4 separate regions of the Homo sapiens genome follow, and regions 1, 2 and 3 are each linked to region 4. Evidence: fine-mapped expression QTL. A gene starts in region 4. Each other region holds a variant in brackets. All regions are shown on one strand. Distances are between the middles of the regions.

Region 1 (5,258 bases), 69 kb before region 4:
GCACCGAGGTTTCCTCAAAGTGCTGACTTTTTATAAAAGGTATAGACATTCTAATAAGAATCTGAGAACTGTCAGAAAAGGAGAAATAAATGCTAGGAAGGCAATGAACAATGCCCACTACTCCTTCTGTAAGGCCCAACTCCCTACTTTTAAGTACTACCATTGCTGCATTAATTTTCCATGACAATTCTCCAAGATCTATTGCTTTCCTTCATGTAATATTATTCAATTGGATTTTTATCCCTCATAGCCAGTATTAGAAAATAACATTAGCTATCATGTATTGAGGGAATCTGAAGAAACAAACCTAGATTCCCCTTACCTCCACCCAATCAAATATTTTGCGTACATTATCCTATGAAGGACATAGTATTAACTCCTATTTTCTTGATGAGAAAACCAAGACTCAAAAATATTCAGCAAACCGCCTGAAGTCACACAGCTACTAACTGTACAGATGAAAGTCAAGTTCAGGTCTTTAGACTCTGAATATTCTACTCTTTTCATAATATTATATTGCCTCCCAACTCAGCAAAATATATTTTAATTTAAGAAGAACAATTCATTTTTATTAGAATATTTTCCCTTTGATCAAGTCAGAACATTTTTAGGAATAGAAGGCAAACTCCTCAAATTTTCTAACATCTTCTGTGTTTCTTAGGACATACCTTAGAAAAAAATGCTTTAAATCTGTCTTCCACAAGATAAGCCAGACTATTCTATTTTTTGAATATTGTTTATAACTAATCACTAGTGTGGTTTATTACTCCTGGATGTTTTCTGCATTCTTTGCATTTCAAATTACAACATAAGTCACATTTACTTATTTTGGCCTTATGTTACTGAGGTTTTTCTTTAAGATGTAGAATTCTTTGCATTTAGTCTTTAAAGTTCTATAAAATCAGGACCACCACATTGCTCAGTTCTGCTGGTGATGTTCACATCTTCATCAATATGAAAAGTGCTCCCTGAAGTCCTGTGTGCAGTAGTTTGGTTAAAATCTAACTCCAAAAAATGTAGAGAATAGAGGAATGGTTTGTCTCTATTTTATAGGGCAACTTTGATTTCTTCCAAACTGCAAGTGTGTAGATCTGGTTTCTCTTCTAGTCGTTTCCTATTTGGGTGATAACCTAGAAAAGAGAGCAATTTCGGGGTCAACCTGTGTATTTGCCTTTGCTGTGTGATGTGAATATTATGTTCTACTCTAGCAAGAGTCTAAATCTGAATAACCTTCAGGGGCCTCCTTGACTAGGACACAGCTGAATCTCTGTGTTGCCTCTAGAAATGCAGATTAGGGTCAACACAAATAGGATGGCCATCCTGAGGAAATATCTCAAATTTCCTAACCTACAAATGCCTCCAGGGATGGGAACCAAGTCATCTAGTTATGTATTCAAGTTTCAGATATGGTTAAAATTAGAGGAAATTCCTTGCTTAAAGAAGAGAAGCATTTCCGTATAAATTGGGCTTAACTAAATCTACAAAATCTAGGAAAACATCAGTTTAATCGGATTTCAAATTAACTTCTTGAGTTGGTATTCTATATTTCCAACCCAGATGAAGAATTCTCAAAATTTCTAGGTAACAATGAGCTGAATACCCCTGTTGTATTGTAAAAACCAATCTAGATAACACTTTTGCAATAGTTTAAAAGTTTTATTCTTGCCTTTTTAACTAGCATTTCCTCTTCTTTCTTTACTGTAGAGCCTCAGTTTTTTCATCCCTCCCTCAATACAATTCATATGCTCAGTTCCATGTTCAAGCCAATCATGGTGGCCCCATTTCTCTTGCAATGATAGGTCTAAATATGGACATGTGATATAGTTCTGGCAAATGAGCCATTTAGGAGAGTCTACTGGGGACTTCTGAGACATGTTGTTTCATTTCTATAAAGGGTACAAAAAAGAGAAATCCTTCTTCTTCTGGACATTGTTACATTTGAATGTGATGCCTGGAATTGCAGCAGCCATTTTGTGACCTCAAGGGGAACTGGCCTGAGTGTCAAGTCCACCACTCAAGATGGCAGACTGGAAAGAGGAAAAGGATCTGAGCCCTTGTATGAGTGAGGCTGCTCCAGAAAAACAGAACCAATAGCATTTATATAGATATATAAGAGGAGATGTATTACGGGAATTGGCTCACGTGACCATGAAGGCCCAAAAGTCCTACCATATACTGTCTGCAAGCTGGAGAACCAGGAAAGCTGGTGGTAAAATTTAGTCTGAGTCTGAAGGCCTGAGAATGGGGGCTGTGGGGGTTTGTGCTGCTGGTATAAATCCTGGAGTTTGAAGGCCCAAGAACAGAAGTGAACTGTCCAAGGACAAGAGAAGATGGGTGTCGCAGCCCAAGAAGAGAGAGAGAGGATTCACATTTCCTTTGTCTTTTTGTTCTATTTGGGTGGGCCCTCAACAGATGGGATGATGCTTGCCACCTCTGGTGAGGATTGATCTTCTTCACTCAGTCTACGATTTGAATGTTAATTTCTTCTGGAAACACCCTCACAGGCACACCCAGAAATGATGTTTTACCAGCTATCTGAGCATCCCTTAACCCAGTCAAGTTGACACAT[A/G]AAATTAACCGTCACAGCCCTTGATTATGAAGTTGAGCTACTTACTTAACCAACCCTGGCACAGCCCTACCACCAGACTTCTTGTCATGTGAAATAATAAGTTGAAGCCAGCTGAGTAAGCTTTTCTGTTAGGGTAGTCTTAACTGCAGAAAACAGAAAACCTGTCTCAGCTGCTTTAAATTTATTATCTCTCTTGAGCGCATTCGAAGTGGTCCAACATTAGGAATCGTATTCTGAAGACTCTCTGAGATTCTGCCTTGATTTCTCATCTAAGAATTCCCCCCTACCCTTCCATTTGGTGATCCTTCATGCCATCATTGAGATGACCTTTCTAAAATTGAAATTGGGTCAAATTATAACTGATTAAATTCTTCAAAGGCTACTTTTTGCTTTCTTGGCTTGGCACACAGACCTGTCTTCACTGGGGCCAGGCTGAATTTCTCTGACCACGTATCTCATTAGGTCAGGCCCCAAAGGCACCCTAAAGCTATTGTCATTACTTGACTATGCTATGTTCTGTCTCTTCTATGCTTTGCAGTGCTATTCCCGTTGCCTAGAACACCTTTCCTGACCTGAAGGGTCACCCCCAAACCAGCCTTCAAGAGCTTCTTTTGGTGAGTCTTTCCTAATGTCCCCTCATAGTCCCCCAAGATTGTCAGATTCTCCTCTTCAGTTCTTCTGGCACCCTGACTGAATTCCCCTGTTATAACACAGGTGACACTGCAGTGTAATTGTCAGATTGTTTCCTACATTTGACTATAACGTCTTTGAGGGAAAAATGTGACTTATTCATCTCAGCATCTCCAATGCCTAGCTTATTAACTGGCACAAAATAAGCAGGTAATAAATGTTTATTAATGAATAAATAATGGTATAATCTAGACTTGGGTTCATGAAGACAACTGTATCCTCTCTTTGGCTGATTTATTCCTGGTATTTTGCAGACCATTGCATCCTCAACAGGGTAAGGAGGAACAAAGAGAGGAAGGAAAAGCTACAACTCTGGAACATCTGCTGTCAAAATTTTGGAGGAAGGTAAAGAAAGCTTAGTAAAGATTTTCTTTCGTATATCTTTTATTTGTTCTATCTCTAACTCACATGATGAATTGTTCAACAAATATATATTGAGAGCCTACTACATGTCAAGCATTGTTTAAGCATTTGGAATATATTAGTGAACAAAACAGCCCTCAGCATTGGCTCTACAAAGAGCTTTAAACAATCATTTCCCCTTTCTGCATCTTAGGTCTGCATTTGTGCATGAACAAGAAACACTATAATGGAAAGCTTTAGATCCTCATACAAAAATCACTGATAAACCCATGGATATATTGTTCATAAGTGCTGCCACTTCTGTCTAGAACCAAGAACAGTTGAGAGGAAGAGGTTACTGATCAAATCCGCTCTTGACCTTGTTCTCAGCTATCCACACCAACAGGCATTGAATTCATTTTTTTAACAAGGGAGTTTTATATACACATGCAGCATTCTGAGGTTTTGACTTCCTTCCTAGCTGCAAATCTCTTTGAGGCTCCATCTGGGACACTGAGCCCCACCCATATGCACCACCTTGAAGCTTCCTTTCTCTGGTTTGCTGGGGACTTTGTACGGAGAGGCTCCATCTGGGCATAGCATTACACCTTTAGAGGCTGCTGGGGGCACAGGGACGATTTCCAACAGAAACCAAGTATATTTGAAAGACACCAAGTCAAGCTTTTGTTTCCTTCCTACAACCTCAGCTTCTGTTGAAGTGGAAACTAGACTGGAAATAAAGGCCACGCTGATTTTCTTCTGAGAAAATACATTACTATGTTAAAAAAAAAAAAGTCCCAATTGCTCCGTGGGAAAGGTTTTTATTTTATAAATACTCTGTGGCTCTGAAATGACAGCATGATTACATTTCTGACAGCACTGGTATAATTCTCAGACTCCCCAGGGAGAGCAACGTGGGGATTTTCCTCCTGGAAAGAAAAGGCAAACTTGCAGGTGCTGAAGGTACATTTGATTTAAGCACGATTCAAAATAAGTAAATACAGATGATAACACAGCAAATACTGAAAGTTGGGTAATCAGCAAAAATAAATGGCATTATCCAGAGCACTATAAATGCGTGAAAGAAAACTGCAAAAATAACTGTTTTTGTTTTTACAACTTTCCAGTGGCTCACTGTCTCCAAATGGGGAGATATGAGAGGAACTGTAGGGAAGAAGAGAAACTGGAAGAGCATAGGGAAATGTAAACATGAGAAGGGAATAGGAGAGTGGAGGAAGGGGACAACTTCAGTGTCACTCTCTCACAGACTCTCCTGCCCCTTGTGATCTGGACAGACCCTGGCAGGCCTCGAGTTCCCTGGAGGTTGCGCCTTAGCGACAGATGACCCGTCTCTGACCACCAAGCACCTAGAAGGCACTTTCGCAGGAGCAAGGCAGGGGTCTGGGGCGCGGAGGGGGTGGGCGCAAGCCGCCCTCGTCCAGCGGTTCCCGCCGAGCATGGTGATAATGAGGGTGGGGCCAGCGTTGGCGGTAGAGCGCCTGGTGGCCCCGGGGCCCCTCCTCGTCCTCCGCGCCTCCCTGCGGCGCGCAGCACAGAGAGCCCAGCCGCTTCCGCAGCTGTCGCCGGAGCCGGCAGTCGCCCGCCTGGAAGAAGAGGTAGACGAAGGGATTGAGAGCGCTGTTGGCCATCGCCACCA
Region 2 (5,258 bases), 32 kb after region 4:
ATTTTTAAAATTGTTAAAATATGAGACAACTGAGAAATTTGATAGTGTTAAGGATGTTGTTTTTGTTTAGGTATGATAATGGTAATGTGGTTATGCAACTTAGAAATGAACTTTTAGATATAGATACTGAAGTATTACAGGTAAAAAGTTACAATATCTGGGATTTGTGTCAAAATCATCTGAGCAGAAGTGTGGTAAAATTAGTGGAGGTATAGATGAAAAAAATGATTGCTTGTGAGTTTGTGGTTTTGTAGCTGGATGATGGGTACATGTGGGTTTATTATACTAGTTTCTGTAATTTTTTTATGTATATGAGATTTTCCTTAATAAAAAGGTTATGAAGAGTGAAGATGTGTTATTAGTGATAGAAATCAGGACCTCTATTTCTTTATTCTATTAGGACCATGCTTTTCTGTGTTCGTTCGTTAATTAAAGCAAACATTGCTGTGGTTGTGTTGAAGGAGATTTATAGCAGTTCTTTACAATTATTTTCTAGATTTCTGATGCAGATAATATCCCAGGACTTTTGGTTCTCAAAAGCTTGGCCTATCGGAACAAAGGTTCATTTGATGAAGCTGCAAAGGTTGGCTTTTTTATTCAAACTGAGCATTTTTTGAGTTAAAAGCATTTTTATTTGGCTATAGAATTGACAGGTGTCTACTTTATAGATTATGGAAGACCTTCTCTCTTCTTACCCTGACCTAGCTGAAGTTCATGCCCTTGAGGCTTTGATTCATTTCACCAAAAAGGACTATCTACAAGCAGAAAAATGGTAAGGATATATAAATTGCTCATAGAACCATTTACATCTTAGTTCTTTATATTTCTGAAAAATTCAAAATGAGTAGGCTTGATGAAGATTTGATTTTTCATGAATTTGATCTTTGTAGGCTTTAAGTTTTAGTATTTTAAAGAAATGTATTTAGCATGTAGTACAGTAGCTATAAAAAATTATATGATGGGTTTCAAATCTAATTAGCTGATCTTGGCCGGGCGTGGTGGCTCACACCTGTAATCTCAGTACTTTGGGAGGCCAAGGCAGGTGATCTCTTGAGCGCAGGAATTCAAGACCAGCCTGGGCAACACGATGAAACCCCATCTCTACTAAAAATACAAAAAGTAGCTGGGCGTGGTGGCACATGCCTGTAGTCCCTGCTTCTCAGGAGGCTGAGGCACGAGAATTGCTTGAACCTGGGGGGTGGAGGTTGCAGTGAGCCAGGACCATTCCACTGTACTCCAGCCTGGATGACAGAGCAAGACTCGGACTCAAAAAATAAAAAAAAAAATCTAATCAGCTGATCATAATGTTCACTAAGCAGATGTAATGTTCAGTATAGTCTGAACACTTAGCACATGGTAGTGCTAAAAGGCCACTGTGCTTTTTTAAGATCCTCTTCTTCAAAAACAAATCACTTTTTTCCTTATGATAATATAAATCCTAAAGTGATGATTGGTTTCTAATTTGGCACCTCTGAATCACTCAAACTTTGATTGTTCCAACTAGGAGTCTCCTATATTGCGTGTGGGTGTGTGTGTATTTGTTTTACTATTTCTTTTTATTACCCTTTGGTGGCTTAGTTTTCAGAGAGCTCTTGAGAAAGATACCGAAGTTGCAGAATATCATTACCAACTTGGATTAACATACTGGTTCATGGGTGAAGAGACAAGAAAAGATAAAACAAAGGCTCTTACCCACTTTCTGAAGGTAAAGCAAGTGCTACAATTCAATTCCTAGTTGAAATGGCATTATAAAATCATAAATAATAATCATATACATTAGTTACAATTACTCTTTACTGAACTGTTTTTTGTGCTTTATCTTTCATATGTCAGGTTTTGTGATGGTGTTATATGGGTTTTCAAGGAAAAAATTAAAACATAAAATGTGAAAGTTACTTTTTGAAAAGCATGTGTTGTAGAAAACGAGACATAATTATCTCTTGTAAACAATACTTTTAAGGTAATTTTCACTGTAGTTTTATGAGCATACAAGTTAGATGTTTAAATTCCTGTTTTTTTAGATGTTTAACATCTATAAGTCCTACATTCTTATCTTGACTTGTAAGAGCAGATTAATTCAGTAGCAGCTCTAATTTCACATTTCCTTTACCAAAAAACAAAATATTTTTATATTTCCTTTTACTTTCTATAAGCAGTGAGGGACAGCTTTCCTGTCTGTTTTAAATCTTACATCAAAGGATTTTTTGGCATATTTTTGTATGTTTAATGAAATTATTTCTTTTTTCTTTAATCTGTGTATTTATCTTCTGTATTTGTAAAGATACTCATTAAATGAACTTTTAATGTTCTGTTATTATCAATATTTATTTCAAAGGCTGCAAGACTGGATACATATATGGGCAAAGTTTTCTGCTATTTAGGTCATTATTATAGAGACGTAGTGGGAGATAAAAACAGAGCTCGTGGATGTTATAGGAAAGCCTTTGAATTAGATGACACTGATGCTGAATCTGGAGCTGCAGCAGTTGACCTAAGTGTGGAGCTTGAAGATATGGTATGTCTAATAATCACTTTTGCTTTTTGTTTTTTTTATCCTGAGTATATAAATGAAAATATTTTTATATATGTATACTTGAAAGTTATCATTAGTTTTTTTTCTATAGGTGCAATATAAATATTTTTGCCTCTGTAAGTGAAGTTTTTTTCCATTGGCAGATATTAAATTACTAACCACTTATTGTTGAAACTGTAATTTGATGTATACCAGTGTAAGTTTAAAAAATCAGAAGTGAGAAATGAAAATATGTTTGTGTACTTTACATGAGCGTTCTGTCTTTTTATAATGTTCAATATATCTAATATTAGTATTTTCTTATTATTAGGAAATGGCTTTAGCTATCCTAACAACAGTAACTCAAAAGGCAAGTGCTGGAACGGCAAAATGGGCCTGGCTTAGGCGAGGACTATACTATTTGAAAGCTGGTCAGCATTCTCAAGCAGTGGCTGAGTAAGGCACCTTATTGTATTTAAACTATGTTAGACAAGCATAACGGTTCCTTAAATTAAGCATTTTAATTGTCTCTTACCAGGTTGTATTTTGAGAGAAGAAATAACAAAATTACTTTATGATTGATTGGTGTTTATTGTTTGCAGGGCAGTGGAATTGCAGAGATGGATTAAATGGTGTCCTGTTGTTGAGGAGATAGCCAGATTAGTGAATTGAAGTCTTAATACATATGTATAGTAGTTCTCAATAGAAATTTTAGTGATGAGAAGCTGAGGTACATATCTTTGTTGTTCTGCTGACACACATTGTTTTTGGCAAGGGAGACATTTGG[C/T]AGCTTAAAGGGCATTGGGAGCAGCTCATATATGATCAATTTGAGTCATTTGATTTGAACAGTACTTAAATGTAAATAAATGTATTTGAATCAAAATAAAATTGTTTCTGGTTTATGTTAGTATCTAGAGTACAGGCATTTTCACGGAAATGGAATTTGATCAGATATTTAAAGCATGCCTATTGTTTCCATATTTTAACTGTGGTATTTCTGTTTGGTAAAAGGATTGCTGGTGGGGGATTATGGGCTGATGTGACAAACTGAGATGGACACCTGTCCTGGTAGGATAGAAAACTCGAGTTCTTCAAGATAATCAAGGAAAAGAAATTTTGTTCAGCACTTTTTCAAAAAAAGCATTTTATTCTTATTCTGAAATTAAAATAACATTTCTTAGCATTAAAAAAATCATAAAAGGAACAAATTTATCTGCTTTAAATAGCACTTTTATAAGTAGAAGGAGCCACAGATATATATGTTTACTTGAATTATTTATTTTATATTTTCCTTTCAGATTTGGAGATAGTTCCATACTTTTAGTTCTCTTACGGTTTTTTAAATTTTAGTTTACAGGCAGCATTAAGAGCAGACCCAAAGGACTTCAATTGTTGGGAATCGTTAGGAGAAGCATACTTAAGCAGAGGAGGCTACACAACAGCCTTGAAGTCCTTCACAAAAGCCAGTGAGCTGAACCCAGAATCCATATACAGTGTGTTTAAGGTTGCAGCAATACAGCAAATCCTAGGCAAATATAAGGAGGCTGTAGCTCAATACCAGATGATCATTAAAAAGAAAGAAGATTATGTGCCTGCTTTAAAAGGTAATTTATTTTTAGTAGCTCCTTTGACTTTTATGATCCTGAAGTATAAAATCCTTGAGTAGATTTCCTGCCTAAATGTATTGAATAACTTGAAAAGGACTTCTTTAGTCAACAGCAAGCATCCATATGAACCTCTTACAGTATAGCTTATATAAATTTGAATATAAAAAGATCAAATCTTGTTTCACAAGTTAATAAATAGTAATGTGACAGAGATTTAACTTTTAGACAAACAGTATGATAACTATTAGATCTAAAAATTGATCTCTAAAACATGTTTCCCTACTCTTACATTTTGATAATTAATTCATCATGTCTCCAGAATATCTTAATACCTTTAATTACTTTGTAAGTTATACAAGCTCATTAAATTTTTTTTAAACTTCAGAGACAACTTGCATTGTTTTGTAGTTATCTAAGTTATTTTTGGTAATATAAAATAAAATACCACCATCCATATATAACCTACATTTGTAATGATTGTATTAAAAAAGCTGGGAGCTCATTATATATGCTTACTTTCTTCCATTTCCTTCTTTCTCCTTTTTAAAGAAACTGGTTTTTTTTTTCTGTTTGTTTTTCTTAAGGAATGCTTTATGAATTTTTGTGTCATCCTTGCTCAGTAGCCATGCTAATCTTCTTTTTATCATTCCGGTTTTGGTATATGTGCTGCTGAAGTGAGCACATAAATAGTATATTGTATATGACATATAACTTAGGGCTTGAAACTTTTTTTTTAATTTTGTAAAACTCTTTCCTCAAGAGAAGGAGAACTCACATTTAAGAAATCTTTACTAGGAACTTTAGGTAATCACTATTTCATTTAATTCTTATAGTATAGCTTGCTATACAGATTTTAATATAAAAAGATCATATCTTGTTTCACAATAGTTAATAAGTAGTAATATCATGGAGAGTAACATATAGATAATATCCACATTTTTTGTAGCCAAAGTTTTAGCAGGTAAGTAACTTGCCCAAAGTCAAGGAAATTCTTGGGTTCTGTAGATAACTTTTTTATAACTTCTAGTGCATGTTTACTCCAACAGAATTCTTCCATTTGAATTTCTTATTGAGTGAATGTAGGATCATGCTTTAAGATAATTTTATAACACACCGTTAAGTTTTATTTTCTGGAAAGT
Region 3 (5,258 bases), 99 kb after region 4:
CCTACAAACCTGTATTCAGATGCTGCCATTTACCTTTTGGTACTATCTGAATTCTAGGAGGAAACTTGGGAAGAAGGGAACCTCCTCCCGAGGATTAACTTTGCAAATTTAAGCCTATGTAATGATAGAGAATAGAATACTCCACTCTTGTTACGTTTTGAAGTTGATATAAGCCGGCTGAAGTGAGCTTATTGTTTCATTTAATCATTTAATCCTTGATAACATCACAAATGCCGCCCCTTGGTTTTCTCTTTGGCTTTTTCTAACCTGTCTTCCCAGAGTTCAACTTTCTTTTGGCCATCCCATGTTAAGGTACAAAGGACCTTACTTTTTTTTTCTTTATCAACTAATCCCCGCAGAGAAGATAGTTGGTAAAATCTCATGGGTGTGTATATGTTCATTCATTCATTCTTTTCTTTCTTCCTCTACCTATCCATCCATCCATTCCTGCATTTTTTGAATATTTAATGTTGGTATTATGAATACTTCGAAGCTGTTAAGTGCTATGTGATAGAATTTTGGCCTAGAGACTACACGGATTCTTTAGTATAAGAGTCATTTTGGGTTGTAGGGGAGGGGGTTTGTCCAGTACCATGTAGGCCCCACTCCATTTGAAGTCTATCCCTGAATGTTTGCCTTATGAACACAGTGCATTACTTTTTTGTAGAAGGACCTACTAGATGAGTACTAATGGCTTTTACCTGGCTGTAATGGCTATTGGGTTTGCTTTGATGGCCAGGACTTTTGGAGGAAACATCCTTCACTGGACAGTAGCATCAGCATCTTGTGCACCTCCAGTCAATGCCCATAATGTTGCTTCAGCTGTTAGCCTCCTTCTCCAGAGACAATTGAAAGAAATGCTTTTAAAATAGAGGAATAGTTCCACATTATAGTTTGTTGCAGGAGAAATCTATATTTTGTACTTCCCTCTGCTTTTGTCCATTGCTAGAATTATTGCAAGCCAAGGTATTTCTTCTCATACATAGTAAAAGAATCTTTTTTAAGCTCAAGTATTTTTAGATACTAATCTGAATCAGAGTTGTATGCCAGTGCACCATGGAACTTGTCTTTCTTTTCCCATAAAGATAAAAAGCTCTGTTTACTTGTATTAATACCATTTATCAAGTACAGTGCCTGTTATGTATCAGACACTAGTATTAGATGGTTTACATATATTTAGAGAAACAGTGTAGCATAATGTTTAAGAACAAGTTCTCTGTTCTTGTGAGTTCAAATCCTTGCTCTATCTTTTACTGGCAATATGACCTTACATAAGTTATCTAACCTCTCTGTGCCTCGGTAATAGGCATCTGGTAGATTAAATGCATTAATCTATGGAAAGTACTTTGAGCTATCTCTAATATCTGATGATAGCTCAATAAATGTTTTTTCTAATGCCTCAGTAGCCTACAAGATAGGTATTGTTATCCCCATTTTAAGATAAGGAAATTGAGATTCTGAAATTAAGGAATATATCCAAAGTCACACTGCTAATGAATGGTGGCACTGGGTTTAAACTCTGGCTTGTTAGGCCACAAGACCCTTCAAGACTTCTCAGCATAGAAGTTTGGGTTATTTTTCTCTTTTCTCAGTGCATCTTTTGAGACTGTTGAGGAAGACCTGGTTTATGACGTAGTGCTGAGTTCATCAATGATTTCTGATTTGTAAACATCACATTTGTATTTGTAAATATCTTCTGAAAGGAAGTAGCAAAACTCTACAAAAGAACAGAGAGTTATGGAAATTTAGTCTATGGAGTCACATTTTTATAACTGTATATCAAGGGAACGATTTGACATAATATTAAACCCTTAACACAAGTGTGTGTAACTCTAATCTGAAGAGGGAAATGCCTAATTAGGTAGAGGCCAAAACAGCCTAATGTTTTTCCTGGCAACCATCCTTCCTCTCTCAAGGAGGGCTCCCCACCCTCTCTGCATTGGAGAAGATGCAGCATGTTTATTTTATGGCATGGAAGGAGACTCAAGAAAGCATTTGTAACTATTCTTCACTGTGTTGCATAATATACCTTGTCAAGTTTACACTGTAGGTTGGGGTCCTCTTTGATAAATGGAAAACTAATGGTGGGTCTTGAAGTAATACTAGTAGAACTTCAAGTTGATTACTGACACCGTCTGCCAGCAGGAACTCCCAAGGAACACTGAAACCTTCAAATGATTACACTCCCTCTCCTACTTTACTGCTGCACGTCTCCCCATACTCGCCCAGGACTCTTCTGCTGTTCTTTCAGTGTTAGGTGTCTTCAGTGTTAGGTTGTTCTTGGTCTCTACTTCTCACTGTAGTCTTCATGTCCCCAACCCCTATCCCACCTAACCAAGGCAATGCCTTCCTCCCCAGTAATTCCAGTAACCATTTCTCTGCTGGTGACTTCCAAAGCTAAATCCCCAGTTCAGATCTTTCTCTCATGCTCCAGGCCCAGCTCTCTCACTAACCACTGGACATCTCCATTTGGATGTCCCATAGATGCCTCAAAATCAATTAGTTTAAAACATCTCATTATCCCCTCTCTGCTGTATTATTTCCCTCCTTTCCCACCCAAATTTGCTTCCCACACTGCATCTAATGTATTCTCTACACTGCAGCCAGAGGGATCTTTCTATAAAATGCAAATCTGTCACTCTCCTATTTAAGATCTTTTAAAGGCTACTCTGGATCCTTAAGATAAAGCCCAAGTTTCTCAATATGAGTTACAAAGTCTTTTGTGATTAGACACCCCACTTTCCCTAACTTCTCCAGCCTTCTCTCTCACTACTCACCTCCCCTAACACACAGCATAGGCTCTGACCTACACTTATTGAGCTTCTTGCAATTTCTGGCATATATCCCCATTCTCTTTTGGCCTCCAGGCCTTTGCTCAGGCTGATCAATCTGCCTGAGCCCTCACCTCTACCAATCAAGCCTCTTTCCCTTGACTTATGTCTGCTTATACATTGGAGGTCTCAATTTAGATACTCCTTCTTCTGGAAGACCCCTCTGCCTGATTCCCTGTGTTTCTGGTAAACACAGGGAATGTGTTTCCTCTCTCTGGCTCTCCCATTACACTCTACTTTCCCATGTATTTGTGATTTTAATTGTTGGTCTTTTCCACTAAACTATAAATTCCCTGAAGGCAGGGTTTGTGTTTAGGTTGTTCAATATTGTATCCACAGTGGCTAGCCCATGGATGTATGGAAGCTGGAAAGATAGAAATAG[T/A]AATACTTCACAAAAACTTTGGAGATCCCTTTTGTAAGGCAACAATGTGCACTGTGTGTGTGTGTGTGTGTGTGTGTGTGTGTGTACTATAGATCAAATTTTTCCTTCTTGGTGTTTTGGGATGCTACTTGCTGCTACTATGGGTGAAGCCAATGGAAGGGAGTCTATGTTTGGAAAATTAGAAGACGGGAGGGCTGCTGGTGTCTAGAGTACTCTGGGAATGCTGTTTCTTTGACCAAAGTCTTGGGCCTTGCTGCTGTCCTGACTACCAGATGGCAAGCATATATGCCTCACAATGGGGCTGAGAAAGCAGTTACCTGTGTGGCAGAAGGGGAGGGATTTGTCCTTAATTTTTAGTGCAGAAGTAAAACACTTTGAACATGACCATCTAGTCCTCAGTATGAATAATTTCATATGATTTTTCCCCAAAGAGCAAGTTTAAAATTTTTTATTCTACATATGTAAGATGTACATTGTGGGTTTTAATATACACTGTGATACCTCAATCAAGCTAATTAACGTATCACCTCACATAGTTACCATTTTTGTGTGTGTGGTAAGAACACTGAAGATCTCTCAGCAAATTTCAAATAGACAGTACATTATTAAGTATGATCCACATGCTGTACATTAGATCTCCAGAATTTATTCATTTTAACTTTAAAGTTTGTATCCTTTGACTGAAATCTTCCATTTGCCTCGGCTCCCAGCCCCTGGCAACTACTGTTCTATTCTCTGTTTATTTCTATGAGTTCTGGCAACTACTGTTCTATTCTTCATTTATTTCTAAAGAGATTCCACATGTAAGTGAGTTTGTGCAGTATTTAGCTTTTTGTACCTAGCTTATTTCACTTAGCATAATGCCCTCTAAGTTCACTCATGTTGTCGCAAATGGCAAGATTTCTTTCTTCTGTAAACCTGAATTATATATATATGTATATACATAGATGACAGTTTATCCATTCTTCTGTCAGGTGGTTTCCGCATCTTGGCTATTGTGAATAATGCTGCAGTGAACATAGGGTGCAAATATCTCTTTGACATACTGTTTTCACTTTATTTTCCAGAAGTGGGATTGCAGGATCATGTGATAGTTTTATTTTTAGTTTTTTTGAACAGCCTCCATATTGTTTTCCCTAATGGCTGTACCAATTTATTGTCCCACATACAGTGCACGAGGGTTCCCTTTTCTCTACATCCTCACCAACACCTGTTATCATTTGAGTTTTTATATATCTGTTGGCTATTTGTATATCTTCTTGGAAAAACATCTATTCAGGTCCTTTGCCCATTTTTTTTATCAGGTTATTTGTGTTTTTGGCTATTGAGTTGTTGAGTTCCTTATATGTTTTTGGATACTAGTTCCCCATCAGATATATGGTTTGCAAATATTTTCTCCCATTTCATAGGTTCTTTCATTTTGCTGATTGTTTCCTTTGCTGTGCAGAAACTTTTTAATTTGATGTAATCTCACTTGTTTACTTTTGTTGCCTGTGCTTTTGGTGTTATATCCAAAAAGTCATTGTCAAAACTAATGTCAAGGGGCTTTTCTCCTATGTTTTCTAAGAGCAGGTGTTGATAATAGGAAGGAAACAACAGGAAATTTAAGGGCAGTAGGACCCTTAACTATTCAAGACTGTTTAAATGGTGTTTGTACTTAAAGTAAAAACTACCTGAGCATATTTTAACATATGCCTCAAGTCTGTAGCGTGGATCTGGATTGCAGATTCTCCAGTGCTCAATCATCCTATATTTGTGGGAAGAGAAGTCTGACATTTCCCAAAGGATTAAGTAATATTGTTTGATATGGAATAAAGTGCCATGTATATTGAGCTTCTTTAGGAGGATAGTTTTATTTATCTTTTTGGATTTCTGTCAAAATAAATGCAAGGGGAGGGAGGCCCAGTGCTCCACTGGTTCCTTGAACAGAGGTGAATTTACTGTGAAACAATGGCTCTTAAGCTTCAGGGGCTCCTGCTTGCGTGAGCTCTAGCCATGTATTTACAAGATCATTGTCATATTTACAGAAGTAAGACATTTTAAAC
Region 4 (5,258 bases):
AAAAAAGAGTTTTCATTTGGTTTGCTTGTTTTCTTGGGAGTTGATCTACAAAGCTCTTGCGTTGTTATCCTGAAAGTAAAACCAATTTGCTATTTTCTTCCTACAATTATTATCCAGCTTAACTGCTCTATCTTAGCCTGCAGAGTTTTAGAAATGATAAATCACAGTGTCAAGAATCTAACAGCATACCAAACTGGTATAATCATAGAGAGAGGAATTATTTTAAGTTTAAAGACCAACATTTTTACTATATAGTTGAATATACCTAAAACAAAAACTTCAAAGAAACTGTAAGCTGCACTCAGGACTAGCATTATTTCTAGTAATATTACAGTCTTATTTTCAAACACATTGATATATACATATTATATGTTTGGATAAAGCAAATAAGTAATTGCATTAATGCATTTAGACCAAAATATTTGGCATAAAACAAAAAAGATATAAGTATAAAAATCAAAGAATAAACTTGTAATCTTAAATTTGAATGGAAAGTATCAGTATGATCTCACAATTTATTTTTCTCATTCTAAAATATTATATACTTTCTAGATTTGTCCACTGGAAAGGTCTAGATGCAATGAACACCCTAACACTCAGACTGTGGTCTCTAAATACAAGATGGGACAGGAAATATGTATTGTGGACATGGAACTCTGTTAAAGCAAGCTGTCAAATACTAATGGGGATGGGTCAAAAGGACTCAGAACCACCTGAAGGGGCTTCCACTGGCCAAAGATAGGACAGTTTGAATATTAACAAGTATGTGAATGCAAAAATTTTTTTTATTTTTTATTTTTTAAAAATTTTTTTATTTTTATTTTTATTTTTTTTTCGAGACGGACTCTCGCTCCGTCGCCCAGGCTGGAGTGCAGTGGTGCGATATCAGGTCACTGCAAGCTCCGCCTCCCAGGTTCACGCCATTCTCCTGCTTCAGCCTCCCGAGTAGCTGGGACTACAGGCGCCCGAAACCACGCCCGGCTAATTTTTTTGTATTTTTAGTAGAGACGGGGTTTCACTGTGTTAGCCAGGATGGTCTTGATCTCTTGACCTCGTGATCCGCCCACCTCGGCCTCCCAAAGTGCTGGGATTACAGGCGTGAGCCACCGCGCCCGGCCGTGAATGCAAAAAATTTAAGCACAAATATAGAAAAATCTATGCATTCATACTACACTAAAAAAAATAACAAACCTATATATCTCAGTCATCTTTGGAAGTTTCTGGGATGTTGTGATCCACATTCGGATTCCCTTTTAGGAATGAACAATTGCCTCTGCTGAAGACAGCTGCTTTGCCCAACACCATGCCCCATTCTAGGAGCAGCCCACAACCAGTGGCCATCCAACATGCAGGTGGAAAGGTCTGTTCTCCTCACTCCTATTGGAAAGCAGCTCTGAAGCACCATACTAGTTTGAGAACTGTCATTCATAAGATGGCAACAAAATTCAGCTTCTCCTCTGCACAATCCTGCTTCCTTCATTTGCCTTTGATTACAAGAGCACTCTGTAATAAAATGCCATCTAGTCAATTTCCAGTACTGCCCATTCTCTAAGTTTAAATCACAAAGATAACTTTAAGTAATATTTTCAAAAAATCCCATGGGCACATCCAGACTATGTAATTTTAATCATCAGGAATCTACGAGAAAGGAAATACAACATATGATTACAAACACTCTTTAGTGCCAGATATGCTTAACACCAACATCTGTGTGACCACAGTAACACCGAGTGATAATAAACTAATATTACAATTAATAACCAAACAATTGTCTAAGCAGCACTTTTTAAAACATGGATCATCCTAAAAGCATCGCGTAAGGTTGACAGTAGCACCTTTGGCTTGGGAAAGTTTCAAAAACTGTTTAAGTTTGGGATTCAGCCACATTACCAACACACACACATACACACAATTTCTCTGGAATACGGGGGAGTGAATCAAGTTATACCAACGATTCCATTTGAATCAGCACTAACAGGATTATCACAGACCTGGGTAATAAAAATAAACTTTCTTCACTTCTCACCCAAACATGAATTCCTGCAAACTTGAGGTGAACTGGAAAATGACTTTTGGAAAGCTAACACGCTTTTATGGAGATGCAGAATGTTATTTTACCACACAATTAAACCAAACGGGGGTATGGACTGAAAGTTCATTAGTCGTGGTAAAATAATTTAGCGAATCGAGGTCAGTATTAAAAAAAAAAGATCTGCAAAGATGTTTTCAGTGTTTCACTATTGTTTTACATGTTTGCATAGGTATGTGGTGTACGTGTGAGTACACGGGGCCTCACATAAAATGTATTTCTTTCTTTGCATCGGGGTAAAAGGTGTTTGAAAATGTCTCAGGTTCTGCTCCCCAAAGCCTGCAGCACAGGCGGCGGCGGTGAGGTCGCCGATCCCCAGCGGGGCGCCCCTCCCCTGCCTCGCGGTACTTACGAAGGAGTCGCTCACGACCAGCACCACATTGGGCGCTTTGGCTGCTCTCCGCCTCTGCTCCCCTGCTCCGGGGGCCAGTACCGCCAGCGCCAAGGCTGCGACCACCGACACCCACAGCAGTAGCATCGCCGGTAGCGGTTCTGAGAGCCTGCCGCCGGGCCAGCCGCCTCCCTCTGGCGTTCTCTCCCTAGCAGAGCAGGGCAGGGACAGCGAACAACTCCCAAAGCTTGCAGTTTGGTTGCTTGATAGTAACGCCGAGCTTCACCCGCAGAACTACAACTCCTATCAGGCGGAGAGCGCGCACATGCGCAACAGAGAAATTCCCGCTTTTACCCACGTTAAGACCTTTTAATCAAATACCGAGCAAATCAGAACCCAGCCACTTCCAGTCACGTGAATGAGTCCTGGGAAAGGCGCATGCGCTCTCATTGCAGCCTCGGCGTTTGTAGAAGAGGAGCATCTGCTCCAGGTGGGTTTGGATTTCTGTCGGTTTTGCACAAGGGATCCTAAAGGCGATTGAAATGGTACTTAGAGAAAGAAAGGATCGGGGCCGGGGCTGTTCATTTTGGGCCGCGCAAGCGTGGCTGAGTGTTCGGCGAGAGCGTGAACTGGGCGGCGATGAGGTGGCGGCGCGGCTGTCACTTAAGTTGAATAGGGCGGTGCCTTGTGGGGCCTCTGGGTGGACCGCCTCAGGTGCGCCGTGAATGCCTTAGACCCCCCCGAATACCTTCCCAGGGAAATCTCTAGCCTGTCTCATCTTATTGCTTCTCTTACCCCGTGCAGTCAGGATTTACTGTGCTCCCATGGGGCGAGGAGCGGGGCCTAGTAAGAAGTTTCAGGCTGTAGGCAGGGGAAAGCATAGCTGTTCCTTGCCTTCAGAGAGCAAAGGAGATAAGCGAAACTGGAGGGGGAAATGGGCTGTGTGACATGTTCAGTTAGTTGACGTAGGTTCAGAATATCATTGTTTTGCTGCAGAATAAAAACCGGTCTCTTTTGACTGTTGAATTCCTTTGGAGAGTTCTGGAAGAAGCAGATTTCTGTCCCAAAGCCAAATTCCAATTTCTGTATCTAGTTTCGGGTATATAATTTGCACATCACACTAGTAGTTTTAATATTCTGACAGTTAAAAGAGGAGTTATACTACTTACTTAAGTCAACTGAATACTAATATCTGGCAGGTTTTTTTTTGCCTAAGATAATTGTAGTAAGGAACAGATTTGTTTATTTAATACTCACATGGCACTTAGGTGCTGAGCGTTATACTAAGCATTTACTGAGCATCTGCTGCGTGCCACGTACTTTTATATGGAATATTTTCTATAATCCTCACTTTCACCATATTGCAGATAGGAAAACAGGCTTAGAGAGGTTAAATGACTGGCCTGAGTTTACACAGGGAGCCAGTCAGAGCACGACTGAAAATTGAAGAGTCTGTGCCGTAACTCACTAAATGCTCTGTCTGCAGTTAGTTTATCTGTTAGTGTAGCAGAATTGTTACTCAAGCAGCATGATAAAGATCTGCGGGAGCATGCAAAAACGTAAACAGTGTTGGGCGCGGTGGCTCACGCCTGTAATCCCAGCACTTTGGGAAGCCGAGACGGGCGGATCACCGAAGGTTAGGGGTTCGAGACCAGCCTGGCCAGCATGGTGAAACCCCGTCTCTACGAAAAATACGCAAAATACTGGGCGTGGTGGCGGGCGCCTGTAATCCCAGCTACTAGGGAGGCTGAGGCAGGAGAATCACTTGAACCCAGGAGGTGGAGGTTGCAGTGAGCTGAGATCGCACCTTTGCACTCCGCCTGGGCAACAAGAGCAAAACTCCATCTCAAAAAAAAAACAAAAACAAAAAAACCCCTAAACAATAGTCTCAGTTTACATGAGTTTAGATTTCAGGGAAGCAAAACCAAGCATACATGAAATAATAATACAGCACGGAAGGTAATACAAGTGGGCTCTCTCATAAAAACAAATTTGTTTTGAGTTAATTTGGAATGTAGAACGTATTTTCTACCATAGTGACAATATTGACTGACATTTAAATTCATAAAAGTTATATTTAATTTTGTGTCTGATTCCATAAACTGTGCTTACTCTCTACAGCCTTGTTTCCACAGGACATGTACTCTGATGACAGGCTTACAAGAATACATCTTTTTCTTCTTTCTCCCCTTGGCAGTGTCAATAGGAGCAGGTGCTGCAGTGATTTGGAGCAAGACAGATATTTTAGAGCCTTAGAGACGTTGTGCTGGAAGAATCTAAGAGGCTTCTAGTCCTACTTCCCATCTGACATTCAGTTTATCCTAAAACATTCCTGCTGAGTGGATTGTCCAGCCTGTGCTTTTTCATCTCCAGTGATGGGAAACACTTCCATTGAGTACCTCATTCCACATTTATATAGGTCTCATTAAAAGTTCCTATTTTAAGTTGAAGTTAATCTTCCTCTATTTTTAACCATTCATTAGTGCATTTTTCTTCACTTTTACATGGATAATCTCTCCCTTTCAACAGTCCTTCCCCCAACTCCCTCGCCACCATTTATTTATTTTTCCTAGTCCCCAGTTTCTTCAGCTAGTTCTCATAATTTCAGGTTTCCTCATTGTTTTGATTACTCTTTTGTGAACGTACAACATTTTTGCTAATCAGTAATTCTATGCTATCAGAAAAGGTACTCAAGAGAATGTAACCATTTGCCTCACTGCCTACTTCCCTCCCGCCATTTTTCACTCCTGCATGCTCTCCTCTAGAATACTGAGTTCCGAAAGCCCTCTTTGGAAAGTGTGGGTCACAGATGCTTCTGTGGCTTGTTTTTCCCCAGGC

Alleles and levels. Positions count from the first base shown, and alleles are read on the strand shown. Sizes are in standard deviations (SD) of each study's normalised expression. Not every link is listed here.
As copies of T replace A in region 3, the expression in cerebral cortex of the gene that starts at base 2,869 in region 4 goes up (moderate effect, 0.56 SD a copy in GTEx).

Evidence for each region.
Region 1: its variant is fine-mapped to the expression of SKIC3 in sun-exposed skin (GTEx, PIP 0.95).
Region 2: its variant is fine-mapped to the expression of SKIC3 in whole blood (INTERVAL, PIP 0.96).
Region 3: its variant is fine-mapped to the expression of SKIC3 in cerebral cortex (GTEx, PIP 0.96). The same link has a PIP of 0.9 or more in caudate.

The regions. Positions count from the first base shown.
Region 1 is chr5:95,621,291-95,626,548 of GRCh38, reverse strand. GPR150 (G protein-coupled receptor 150) reads right to left here. Exons shown (of 1, transcript NM_199243.3): 1 at 4,407-5,258. The coding sequence ends at 4,969. LOC112267933 (a long non-coding RNA gene) reads left to right here. Exons shown (of 3, transcript XR_002956221.2): 2 at 3,108-3,183; 3 at 3,514-3,696. Among named protein-coding and RNA genes, the nearest start is that of GPR150, 3.8 kb to the right of the region's middle. RefSeq lists silencers at 4,832-4,891, 5,112-5,258 and an enhancer at 4,595-5,094. The variant A/G (reference allele first, on the strand shown) is at 2,570.
Region 2 is chr5:95,520,912-95,526,169 of GRCh38, reverse strand. SKIC3 (SKI3 subunit of superkiller complex) reads left to right here. Exons shown (of 43, transcript NM_014639.4): 14 at 497-583; 15 at 669-772; 16 at 1,579-1,705; 17 at 2,336-2,515; 18 at 2,844-2,968; 19 at 3,863-4,116. It also overlaps the pseudogene RNU6-308P. Among named protein-coding and RNA genes, the nearest start is that of SKIC3, 31 kb to the left of the region's middle. The variant C/T (reference allele first, on the strand shown) is at 3,300.
Region 3 is chr5:95,453,411-95,458,668 of GRCh38, reverse strand. No RefSeq gene overlaps it. Among named protein-coding and RNA genes, the nearest start is that of FAM81B, 65 kb to the right of the region's middle. The variant T/A (reference allele first, on the strand shown) is at 3,214.
Region 4 is chr5:95,552,588-95,557,845 of GRCh38, reverse strand. SKIC3 (SKI3 subunit of superkiller complex) reads left to right here and starts at 2,869. Exons shown (of 43, transcript NM_014639.4): 1 at 2,869-2,910. It overlaps ARSK (arylsulfatase family member K), which reads right to left and starts at 2,745. Exons shown (of 8, transcript NM_198150.3): 1 at 2,442-2,745. The coding sequence starts at 2,567.